Regions from separate parts of the Homo sapiens genome. Here regions 1, 3 and 4 are each reported to be linked to region 2. The links are microRNA targets in miRTarBase. Many come from high-throughput screens and were not tested one by one. Region 2 holds a microRNA gene; each other region holds the end of a gene's coding sequence. Distances are from middle to middle.
The links. The annotated mature microRNA hsa-miR-216a-5p reads UAAUCUCAGCUGGCAACUGUGA and lies in region 2 at 933-954, opposite strand. An mRNA with a match to its seed (bases 2 to 7 or 8) in the 3' UTR can be bound and repressed. Matches are read on the target gene's strand: a 7mer-m8 pairs with bases 2 to 8, a 7mer-A1 pairs with bases 2 to 7 and ends in A, and an 8mer does both.

Region 1: miRTarBase lists CPS1 as a target of hsa-miR-216a-5p. Seed matches in the 3' UTR shown: 7mer-m8 at 700-706.
Region 3: miRTarBase lists MCM8 as a target of hsa-miR-216a-5p. The part of its 3' UTR that is shown has no 7-base or 8-base seed match.
Region 4: miRTarBase lists PDP2 as a target of hsa-miR-216a-5p. The part of its 3' UTR that is shown has no 7-base or 8-base seed match.

Annotation. Positions count from the first base shown.
Region 1 is chr2:210,677,493-210,680,661 of GRCh38, forward strand. It overlaps CPS1 (carbamoyl-phosphate synthase 1), which reads left to right. Exons shown (of 38, transcript NM_001875.5): 38 at 395-1,615. The coding sequence ends at 493. Among named protein-coding and RNA genes, the nearest start is that of CPS1-IT1, 62 kb to the left of the region's middle.
Region 2 is chr2:55,988,088-55,991,256 of GRCh38, forward strand. MIR216A (microRNA 216a) reads right to left here and starts at 972; the gene lies at 863-972. The region is part of intron 2 of MIR217HG (MIR217 host gene); the gene reads right to left. All of the region lies in intron 3 of LOC105374690 (a long non-coding RNA gene), which reads left to right.
Region 3 is chr20:5,994,099-5,997,267 of GRCh38, forward strand. It overlaps MCM8 (minichromosome maintenance 8 homologous recombination repair factor), which reads left to right. Exons shown (of 19, transcript NM_032485.6): 19 at 201-3,169. The coding sequence ends at 293. The region is part of intron 3 of MCM8-AS1 (MCM8 antisense RNA 1); the gene reads right to left. Among named protein-coding and RNA genes, the nearest start is that of MCM8-AS1, 10 kb to the right of the region's middle.
Region 4 is chr16:66,885,578-66,888,746 of GRCh38, reverse strand. PDP2 (pyruvate dehydrogenase phosphatase catalytic subunit 2) reads right to left here. Exons shown (of 2, transcript NM_020786.4): 2 at 1-3,169. The coding sequence ends at 2,873. Among named protein-coding and RNA genes, the nearest start is that of PDP2, 6.6 kb to the right of the region's middle.

The DNA.
Region 1 (3,169 bases), 150 Mb from region 2:
TGTAGCACAAGTGCTTGTTCAATTCACAGAAAATGATTGCATGAGGCATGTTCAGTTTCACTTGGACATGACCCATCGAATTTATCACAGGGAGAAACAGAGTGGAGACTCATTAACTTTCTGCCTATCATATTTATTTTTTATGCAGAATCAGTTTTAATCCCTATGGGAGGAGAAATAAGCGTATTCACAGTGACATCTGAGATATAAAAGAAAGTCCCCATGGTGAGGTCTGAGACATGGGAGAAAGTCTCCATTACATAAAAAACTTTTATGCCTTTTATCCCATACCCCTTTGAAAACTGGGGACAGACACTTGTGACTTTTGTCTTCATTCATTAAAAATTCACTTTTATCTCATGGAGGGTGCTGATTCCTACCATTATATTTTCAGGTGACCAAACTTTTTGCTGAAGCTGTGCAGAAATCTCGCAAGGTGGACTCCAAGAGTCTTTTCCACTACAGGCAGTACAGTGCTGGAAAAGCAGCATAGAGATGCAGACACCCCAGCCCCATTATTAAATCAACCTGAGCCACATGTTATCTAAAGGAACTGATTCACAACTTTCTCAGAGATGAATATTGATAACTAAACTTCATTTCAGTTTACTTTGTTATGCCTTAATATTCTGTGTCTTTTGCAATTAAATTGTCAGTCACTTCTTCAAAACCTTACAGTCCTTCCTAAGTTACTCTTCATGAGATTTCATCCATTTACTAATACTGTATTTTTGGTGGACTAGGCTTGCCTATGTGCTTATGTGTAGCTTTTTACTTTTTATGGTGCTGATTAATGGTGATCAAGGTAGGAAAAGTTGCTGTTCTATTTTCTGAACTCTTTCTATACTTTAAGATACTCTATTTTTAAAACACTATCTGCAAACTCAGGACACTTTAACAGGGCAGAATACTCTAAAAACTTGATAAAATTAAATATAGATTTAATTTATGAACCTTCCATCATGATGTTTGTGTATTGCTTCTTTTTGGATCCTCATTCTCACCCATTTGGCTAATCCAGGAATATTGTTATCCCTTCCCATTATATTGAAGTTGAGAAATGTGACAGAGGCATTTAGAGTATGGACTTTTCTTTTCTTTTTCTTTTTCTTTTTTTCTTTTTGAGATGGAGTCACACTCTCCAGGCTGGAGTGCAGTGGCACAATCTCGGCTCACTGCAATTTCCGTCTCCCAAGTTCAAGCGATTCTCCTGCTTTAGACTATGGATTTCTTTAAGGAATACTGGTTTGCAGTTTTGTTTTCTGGACTATATCAGCAGATGGTAGACAGTGTTTATGTAGATGTGTTGTTGTTTTTATCATTGGATTTTAACTTGGCCCGAGTGAAATAATCAGATTTTTGTCATTCACACTCTCCCCCAGTTTTGGAATAACTTGGAAGTAAGGTTCATTCCCTTAAGACGATGGATTCTGTTGAACTATGGGGTCCCACACTGCACTATTAATTCCACCCACTGTAAGGGCAAGGACACCATTCCTTCTACATATAAGAAAAAAGTCTCTCCCCAAGGGCAGCCTTTGTTACTTTTAAATATTTTCTGTTATTACAAGTGCTCTAATTGTGAACTTTTAAATAAAATACTATTAAGAGGTAATGCAGTTGAATCTGGTTTTATTTTATGTTGCTGTACAAAAATCAGTTTACTTCTATGATAAAATAGGGTTTTGGGCCAGGATTGCATTGCTTATTTATTTTTTCCATGCAAACCCATATAGGGATGAGAAAATTAATGTTAAAAATAAGTTTTAGCTGTCACATTTTTCATTTTTTCTTGTCCCTCCCTTGCTTTTAAGTCTCATCATAACATTATGTGGTTATATGGCTATAAACCATCTTTGATCTGGATCCTTTCTAATGTATAACTACAACCACAAACTGATTAAAGATTGCCACAAATATATAGTAAACTTTCAAACAAATGTCTTGCATAACTCAGAAAAGTAACTTAACCCAATCAGAGGCTGACCAGCATTGTCTGATGGAAATAGTGCCAATGAGCACACTGATGCCATATCCCCAATTTACCACCGAAACTATGGCTTTGTGAAGGTCCTAAGATAATTATGCTATAACAGCTTTTATTTCTTCCTTGTTACCTCACAGTCAATTGATTACCACTTTGTATAGCTCTAGACGAATGCTTAAAGTAATTCATCTTCTCTCCCCCTCACTTCCTTGTTCTTCCTGTGGTCAAGACTTTCATTACTTCTTCCCTGTAATCTTTTTTTTTTTTTTTTTTTTTTTTTGAGACGGAGTTTTGCTCTTGTCACCCAGGCTGGAGTGCAGTGGCGCGATCTCAGCTCACTGCAACCTCCATCTCCTGGGTTCCAGCGATTCTCCTGCCTCAGCCTCCTGAGTAGCTGAGATTACAGGTGCCCGCCAACAAGCCTGGCTAATATTTTGTATTTTTAGTAGAGACGGGGTTTCGCCATGTTGGGCAGGCTGGTCCCCTATAATCATATAATTATGTAATCCCTGATCACTTTGATTCATTCACCTGAAAATATTTAATGAGTTTCTTCCATGTTTCATGTAGAATATATCACAATCTCTCCTACTATTATTCTAGCATGTTTCTGTTACATATCACCAGCACCACAACCACCATCACCATAATAATTAACATTATGGAGTCCATACTATTTTTCAGGCATTTGTAAGTACTTTACATGAGTTAACCTAGTTAATCCACAAAATATCCCTGTGAGTAGGTGCTGTTATCTCCATACTATAAATAAGAAAACTTAGGCATACCAAAGTTAAGTAACATGCTCAAGGTCACACGAAATGGAGTCTCACTTTTCTGTATCATATTCTGGTGAAGGTAGGCATGTAAAAAGAAATCATTTCTCACAGTAAAGAAAATAATTTGCCTGCAGAGATCAGGGAAGGGCATTTTAAGGAGATGGATTCATGTGTTGCCTTGAATAAGATCTTGCAGTTGCCAAGGAAGACTAGAAGGTAAGGACATTTAGGAAAATGACAATGACGTTGTTATGACTGGAGCTCAGGGTATGTGTGGAGGGAAAGGGCTAGTAGCAGAAGTTGAGACTGGACTCTTAATGGTGGATGTTTAAACTAGGTAGAAGTTTTAAAACTTTTTATTTGGAAATAATTTTGGATTTAAATTTTAAAAGTAAAAAAATCC
Region 2 (3,169 bases):
CCTCAGCCTCCCAAAGTGCTGGGATTACAGGCGTAAGCCACTGCGCCCGGCCCAGAAATGTAATTTAATCAAACTGAGATATACAGACTTCTCTTTCTGAGGATACCTGAGGGGATATGTGCCAGTCAAGACCTTGGAAATAGCATTTTAATAATTTTTGTTGTTAAAGTTATCCCACATTTAATTATAAATTTGGTTCATCTGATTTGTTTTGTGTTACTGGGTGAATGAGGAAGATAACTGGCCTTGATTTTTCACCCTGAAGAATTACATTTGTTCTTATTCTTTTTATGGAAAAGGATTATCTGTTTCCAGGGATCACCGAGAATTAGAGTTGGGTACAGCTCAAAAGTTTCATGGCAACCTCAGCCTAAGCCATAGTTGATTCTAAATTTCAATATTATTTAGGGCAGATGAATGTGAAACACTTACAGAAGGAATGAGGAAGGGCGATTAAATGTGATAATCTGGGGAGTTGAAGTTTGAGGAGGGCCTGGCAGGAGATCGTCCTCTTTTAGACTGTTTGGAATTTGATGGAGTAGCACCCACAAAGAGAGTGGGAGGAGCTTTCAGAGGGAAAATATTTTGGGTTCAGCTTCTAACACCCAAACTCCCTTGGCTGCAATTTTTTAAAAAACCAAGTAGCACTGAAGGAGCGCAGTAAGTAGCAAGCGAATCCAATAAAGGCAAATTAATTCCCAAGGCTGGTTTCCTTTCCAGCACAACAGCACTTTAGAAAAAGACTTTACTAAGATTAAAAGAGGTTGAGCATGAAACAGTAACCATCGAAACTTTTCCCCCCGTCTTGGTCATGAAATAGAAATTTGGTGTTTAATTTTGGTTGCCATGCAAGTCTTTTGATTCGTGAGGGCTAGGAAATTGCTCTGTTTAGCATAATCCCAGAGACCACTGTGAGGGATTGTATGAACATCTCACAGTTGCCAGCTGAGATTAAGCCAACTCACAGCCATCCGTGTTAGACCTGCAAGAGAAAGTGTATGAGCAGAGGCACGTGGCTGCCTCAGGTGGAAGCACATCTTCATACATCGAGTGCACCAGCAGAAGCCCTGATGTACCCCTCTGCATTTTTCTTGAGGCGACATTATCAAGCTACTCCTCTTGCTGAATTCACAGATTTCTGGCATATGCTATATTGCATGTAATGTCATAAAAGTATAATCTTTGCATTTAGAAAGGATTTACTCTAATCCATATATAGTAAGAAACAGCCAAGTAGGAGTACAGGTGAATGTAAAACCAATCACTAAAAATGATTTTTTAAACAAGCTTTATAGAGAACTTGGAAACATCAAAGCCAAACACTCTAAAATTTGTCCTCAGACAAGAAAACCAGCAATTACGTTGAAAAAGTAATGACCGTATACTCACCAAATGGCCAGATGTGTCAATAGCGGTGGCTATTACCTTTCATAGATGGTGGTATGTCCTCCCCTCTTGCCCACATCACTGTCATGGCTAAGTGAGACTGAGCCATGATCTAAGCCCCTCAGTCCACTGGGTGGGGCTAATCAATGGTAAGAATAATGATTAAGAACGGAAGGAAGAGGAAACGCCCTCAGAGTTTCCCCACCATCTGCCGTGGATGGCATCTCAACTTGAGTGAGTGTAAGAAGCACATAGGAAACTTGTTACAAATGTAGATCCCCAGGACCTACCTCTATATTTTGATTCAGTAGGTCTGGTTTTGGTGGCTGCGATTTGCACTTCGGTGGAGATTTTCCACTGCCTTTCTCCAGCTTCACTTCATACTAGACCATTTCTTCCTCTACATTGTAGACTCCAGCTCTAACAAGTTCTGAGAATCCAATGAGCTGTGTTTGCCCATACTTGGAATTATTTCTTCTTTCTCTCTCCCTCCTCTCTCTCTCTTTCACACACACACACACACACACACACACACACACCCCCTTGTGTGACAGTCACACATTGAAAACTATCACACACTGCCTTCTCTCCCCAGTCTCCCTTTTTTGGCACCTGTAATACACAATGGTGTTTTCTCACTCACATGCTTTCTCCTTCATTGACTGCAAACTTCCAAGTGTTGGCACTGTGCTTATTCATCTCTATATCCTCAACTATACTATTCTCAGTTTAGCATCTGATGTTTAATAAGTGCTCAAAAAAATTTTGTCAAACTAAATCAAATGTTTGTTGAAGCAAAGAATTATGGATTTCAGCTCATAACTTGTCCTTTAATAATTGAGACTTGACACAATTAAGAGAGTGGTAATTTACAGAGTTAGAAAAGTGGCTTTTCGTTTTAAAAGTCAGGTAAATATAAAGTTACAAAACAATTGAGAAAGAACAATTGAATATAATCTTGTGCCTCATATGGACTCCTAAGTACAAAGCTACTTTTGTAAAATAAGAATGTCTCATCATTAGGATTTAACTTTTTAAATATTGTTCTAAGTTTATTTTCTGGAGTCAAATTGCTCAGGATTAAAAATAAGCAGATTTTATCTTAATCAAAAAACAAGGGCTTCTCAGAGCAACATGAATGACGTTCAGTTTTTTCTTTTCTCTTAATCTTATATTTGATTTTCCTTTCTCTCTAGAAAGTTTAATAGTGAAAAGTTACCATAGAGAAGTGACAGGAGTATGTAGTTCTTCTTCCCTCTGCTAGAAAACATTAAGAAAAGATCATAAATGGGAACATCATATGCTGATGTGGAAGATGAGACAGCTTTTTATTAATCTTAAGTTGTCATGTCCACAACTGCACAGGGAGGTGGGCTCTCAATGGAAGCAAAGACATATACGTTTCTGCCTTGCCTACCTTAGTGGGTTGCTGTGATGGGCATTTAAAAAAGAAAAAGGAAGAAACTGATACAAAGTTGTTTTGGCAACAAAGCTATATTAATGTGGATAGATAGTCCACAGGCCAGATAAACTGAAATACAGTAGCAAAGTATCAAGGAGTAAGCTGTTTCTAACACTATCTATACATTCTGTTCAAGTATTCTGAGGATATTATCTAAGATGTCTCTATATGCATATTTTGGGTGCACCGCAATGTATGCATTTGTGATCTTAGTTCTGTTAGAGACTCTCTATAGATTTGTATTTGAGAGTAATAAATTTCAGTTTGGTCATTGGGTCTGTTCAGATGGTGGCAATTTTCCTATTTCCCTGAAGACTAGTG
Region 3 (3,169 bases), not on the chromosome of region 2:
TTGGAATTTTTACTTTTTATTTATTTAGGCATTATAGAATCCAGAACTCAAATATAGGCAGTTTGCTCTGTAAGAAATAAAAATAATTTTATTTGGCCAAGAAACTTTACAGGTACATATTATTATTTGAGAGATTTATTTTAAAAGTAATATTTTGACATGTTACTTAATGGGCTAAACCTTTTGATGTTTTCTTCCAGGTTGCTGATTTTGAAAATTTTATTGGATCACTAAATGACCAGGGTTACCTCTTGAAAAAAGGCCCAAAAGTTTACCAGCTTCAAACTATGTAAAAGGACTTCACCAAGTTAGGGCCTCCTGGGTTTATTGCAGATTAAAGCCATCTCAGTGAAGATATGCGTGCACGCACAGACAGACAGACACACACACACACACACACACACACACACACACACACACACACAGTCAAATACTGTTCTCTGAAAAATGATGTCCCAAAAGTATTATAATAGGAAAAAAGCATTAAATATAATAAACTAATTTAAGAAGTGATAAAGTCTCCAGATGCAGTAGCTCACACTGTAATCACAGTGACTCAGGAGGCTGAGGTGAGAGGATTCCTTGAGGCCAGGGTTCGAGACCAACCTTGGGCAACATAGCAAGACCCCATTTCTTAAAAAAAAAAAAAAAAAATTTAAACTTAGCTGGGTATGGTGGCACATGCCTATAGTCTCAGCTACTTGTGAGGCTGAGGCAGGAGGATTCTTTGAGCCCAGGAGTTTGAGGTTACAGTGAGCCACAATCACACCAATCACTGCACTCCAGCCTGGGCAATAAAGTAACTCTTGACTCAAAAAAATAAAAAAAATTGTAGTGGTAGCCATGTGTTAATTGTTAAATAAATTCTCCAAAGGGCTAAAAGTAAATTACTTATAAATTTTTTATAGTTGTATTTTTGACCTGCCTTTTATATGTATGAATATTTCATAGTTTTGCATATCAGATGTAGGCATACAGACAAATACATAAACCAATGAATATATTACATATTCTGTGTTCCAATAAAACTTTATTTATGGACACTAAAATTTGAATTTCATAAAATTTTCCCATGTCAAGAATACAAAATACTTGAGTTTTGTTTTTAGCTATTTAATAATAGGTCTCATTTATTCCACAGGCTGTAGTTTGTAGTCTTGCTTGAAACAATAGAAACAGACTGATTAAGCAGGAGAAGTTTTTTGAAAGAATTTTGTTTGGCTCACGGAATTATTAGAAGGCAGGTGAACCAGGAGGGTAAGCTTCCAGCAGCAATTTGTAAAACCATGCCTTAGAATTGGACTAAGGAAGAAGCTGCTGACACTCCACTGCCACACAGGGCACTGGAAGAAAGTGCTGCTGCCTCCCTGCCCCACCTTTGCCACTTCTGCAGCAGGAATAGGTAGAAGAATGCCCCCACCCGCACCGGAACAGCAACAAAAGGATTCTGCATGAGATGCCTCCCTAAATTGCTGAATTCAAAAAAGAAGTTGCATACAAAGACATCTGATTGAAAAAGGGTATGTTATATGCCCCTTTCATAGGCTGCTAGGGAGTTTTCCTGGTTCTACTTTCAGGTGGTGGGATCAATAAGACCAGAATTTCTCATATGTTGTGAGAGGATTCAAATGTTACAGGGTTGCCAGCCAAACTATCAATCATGTATAAATCCAACAAACACTTTGTAACATACAAGAACTCAGGAAATGTGAACCATTGTTGGAGAATCTACTAAAATACGGCTTCCCGCAAACGAAGATGAATGGAAAATGTAAATAAAAAGAACTGGCAGTGTATATCAGATGTTTAACTATAGGACCAGAACTAAGATGTGGAGACTATTGCCATAGACCACAATGTAAATTTTTAAGTGAGGAAGGAAAAATCAGGAATCAAAAGGGGCCAGGTGCAGTGGCTCACATCTATAATCCCAGAGCTTTGGGAGTTCGAGGCAGGAGGATCACTTGAAGCCAGTTTTGAGACCAGCCTATGCAACACATTGAGACCCTATCTCTACAAAAAATAGATTAGCTGGGCACGGTGGTGCATGCCTATTGTCCTACCTACTGTGGAGGCTGAAGTAGGAAATCACTTGAGCCCGAGAGTTTGAGGTTACAGTGAGCTATGATTATACCACTGCACTCCAGCCTGGGCAAGAGAGCAAGACCTTGTCTCTTAAAGAAAAAAAAAAAAAATGGAGAAAGTAGATAGTAGTATAAATATAGTGAAGTCTTTAAAAGCTAGGAGTTAAAAGATATTTAAAGCAAATAACTCAGGCATGGTGGTGTGTGCCTGTAGTCCCAGCCACTAAGGAGGCTGAGGCAGGAGAATCACTTGAACCCGGGAGGCAGAGGTTGCAGTGAGCCAAGATCGTACCACTGCACTCCAGCCTGGGCAACAGAGTGAGACTCTTTCTCCAAACTAAATAAGAGATATTTAAAGCTGAAAAAAAATCTATTAATAGAATTTAAAACATTTCACAAAAGTCAACACATAAATAATATCAACCAAAATAAAGTGGTAGACAGAAGAGAAAATATACTAATTTATTGTTCAAAGAGGAAAATAAGTCTCAAAGGTTAAGGCTATTATATAAATTTATTTTTAAAAAGACATAAACCTACATTTTCAGAAGAAGAAGTTCCATGTTTCCTTAGATTATGTATTTAGCATCCATTAATCACAGGGCCAAACTAACAACAAAAGTTGTTTAGCTTTCCCTTACAATCCAGCTTTTATGGGTGTGCAAACATCACATTACAGTCCCTCCAACCACAAACCCCAACATATAGTATTTCACTTCCTGCCCAATAGTGGGTGTCCCCACACCTTTCAACCACTGTAGCAACAAAGCTCTGGCCTAGGCTTTTCACTTGCTTCTTTACTGCCTGACTGACTTTGGTGTTTCCTCATGTGGCCTGGTGTGGCATGGCACGCCCTCTTGGGAGATGAAAGTAATCTTCCATAGGCAATTGTTTCTGTGTCACCATTGCTGATTAAAACAAATCCTAAGTACAAATGTCAGAACAGAAACATGCAAAGCAAGAAAACATTACATCATGAAAGTTTCTTTTTTTTTCTTTTTTCTTTTTTTTTTTTTTTTGAGACAGAGTTTTGCTCTTTTTGCTCAGGCTGGAGTACAGTGGCGCGATCTTGGTTCACCGCAACC
Region 4 (3,169 bases), not on the chromosome of region 2:
CAGTAAAGGCTTCAAGGATACTCCAGGGTTTAGCTAGTATAAAGAATAAAGGACAAAGAAAATGCCAGACAACCAGCCTGAGCAACATAGCAAGATCATGTTTTCACCAAAAAAAGTTTTTTTAATTATCTGGGCCTGATGGTTCATGCCTGTAGACCCAGCTACTTGGGAGGCTAAAAGGGGAGGGAACATTGGAGTCCAGGAGTTTGACAGTGAGTTATAATGATGCCACTGCACTCCAGCATGGGCGACAAAGCAAGACCTTGTCTCAAAAAACAACAAAAAGTAAACGTCAGATAGAATCCTCAATTTTAGCAACAAACCCTCATGCTAGCAGAATGGAAGTGATTTACATTTTATTTTTGATTCAAGATCTAGGAGATAGGCTGGGTGCGGTGGCTCATGCCTATCATCCCAGCACCTTGGGAGGCCGAGGTGGGCAGATTGCTTGAGTCTAGGAGTTTGAGACCAGCCTGGGCAACATGGCAAAACCCTGTCTCTACAAAAAATTAAAAAAATTAGCCAGGCATGGTGGTGCATAGTCCCAGCTACTCGGGAGGCTGAGGCAGGAGGATCGTTTGAGCCTGGGCTGCAGAGGTTGCAGTGAGCCAAGATCATGCCATTGCACTCCAGCCTGGCTACAGGGAGACCCTGTCAAGAAGGAAAGAAAGAAAGAAAGAGAGAGAGAGGAAGGAAGGAAGGAAGGAAGGAAGGAAGGAAGGAAGGAAGGAAGGAAGGAAGGAAGGAAGGAAGGACGGACTAAGAGATAAGATGGATTTTTTTTTTTTTTTTTTGAGACAGAGTTTCACTCTTGTTGCCCAGGCTGGAGTGCAATGGTGCGATCTTGGCTCACCGCAACCTCCGCCTCCCGGGTTCAAGTGATTTTCCTGCCTCAGCCTCCCGAGTAGCTGGGATTACAGGCATGCACCACCACACCTGGCTAATTTTGTATTTTTAGTAGAGATGGAGTTTCTCCATGTTGGTCAGGCTGGTCTCGAATTCCCGACCTCAGGTGATCCATCCGCCTCGGCCTCCCACAGTGCTGGGATTACAGGCGTAAACTACTGCACCCAGCCAAGAAGGAATATTAATGGTTTCAGAATAAAAGGATCAAGGCTTAAATATTCAAAAGATAATTTCTTAGATGAAAACACATGACTAAACAGTTGCACTGAAAAATGTACAAAGAAACACCACCAAATTAGAAGTATCCCAACATTTGACTGAATGTCAGCTGGGACATAGACAAAAAACAGGAAACCAAACCTAGCTATTTGTTTTTCTTTTCAGTAGGTGGCATAAAGGGGTAAGATGAGAAAAGGGATCAACAAATGTAGTTCAACTTAATTGAAGAATTCTGCCTGACGTAGTAGAGGCAAATAAAATTGTTGGTTTTGTGGGATTATATTTGTTTCCATTTAGGGACACATTTCCTGTTGTTTAAATGCCACAGCAACTCATGAGATGAAATTCATCTCCAAAATGGATCCACATAACTGAATTTCCAAGTAAATACAAAGAGTCTACAGCCCACAGAAACCATTACAAATTACACTTTTATTTTTGCCCCAACTCCTATACTAAATATGGTCTAATTCCTGAGGACTAGCAATGGTGGTTTATCCCACAGTCTTGGGGCAAGCGTCCCATCTGATAAGTCTCACTCCTCCCTCCTGCCCACCACCTCTCAGGAAAGGATTCAGAGAAACTTGGTTAGAAACTGTTGTCCTTAAGCCTTTGTGTTTTCACCTCTCCAGATAGAGGTTGAATCTTAAGTCCACAATCCGCTAAATTAACCTGTCCTGTCTAAACGTCTATCACCACAACTACCACATGCAATCACATTTTCTCCTTTCCTGCAGCCATAGGAAGCAGGAACATGTGAAAGATTCTTTCAGACAATATTTTGCAGTTGGCAGGTGCAGGGTGAATGAGGGGTTCAGCATAGCAGAGGTAGAAGGATTGTGTGGAATTGACAGAAGAATGTTTGAGAGGTATAATCAGAAAGCTTAAATGCTGTGAATCAACCCCCAAAGGCTCAGCCCAGGAGGAAATTTTACTAATGCAGGAAAGGTCAGGAGTTAAGGCATAGACTAGTTACCTCCTAGCATGGCTCAAAGTTTCTGGAATGGGACTCAGTAGAGGGCACAAAAAGCTGCACCAGTAAGTTCAGCTGGTCCAGAGGCATAGATCCTATCAGCTGAAAACCAAAACAAGTCATTCCAAGCATGCTTACAGTAGGCGTGTTTGCAAGTTTAAGGATTCAGTTTTAAAATAAACGAAAACAGAACTAGAATGTAGTATTACAAAATTTCTCACAAGCATAATCACAAAAAAAAAAGTTAGGATATTGCATAGAAAAGGGTCCTGTAGTATGCTTTGTAAACCTAGACCTTAGTAATTTAAATAAAAGACAAACAAATAAAATATCTCTTCATAGTCTACAAGTCCATGATTGTGAATTCAGGAGAATTATCAAATTTGCAGATTTTTGTGGCAAGACCTAAGAAGCTCCTGAAGTTCTTTATTCTCAGAATCATGATTAAATTTACCCTTTGAAGGCTCAGGCTGACACAGTTTAACAACATCTTTATCAAATGACTGGGGCTACACAAGCCCAAGCCAATTCTATAGACTTTATGCTCTGTCCTCTCTGCATATAAGACTTAATCAGAACATACAGGGACATGAAATCACTGCTATTTCACTGTTTTTTAAAGCTAGGCTGTTTGTTTTTTTCCTCCTGTTAGTCTATTTAGCAAATTAAATCTGCCTGCGCTTTTAATAGTAAGGTTTGGATAGCTAGTTTAGGAGTAAGTGAAACATTTTAGAAGAGCATTTATGTTAACCTTGACAATAGGATGGGAGATTCTTAACCCCCCTTGTAATATGCACCGATTGATTCTGAGTTAAAATACACCACAGTGACAGTGATATCATCCCTGTACATCCTCGCCAAGTCCTCTGGCAATGTCAGCATCGCCGCCAGCCGCTCTGCCTCCATCTCCCCATACTCATTGTTCCCGATGGCATGTCTGATCAGCCGCGTGGCTGCATTTTGGTCAGCCTCGTGGAGCCCGCTGGCTTTCCTCTGCAGCAGCAGGCTCTGCATGAGCCCCAAGTTGGCGGGTCTCTGGGCCAGGTCTGTCTTGTGCCAATCTGCCTCAGC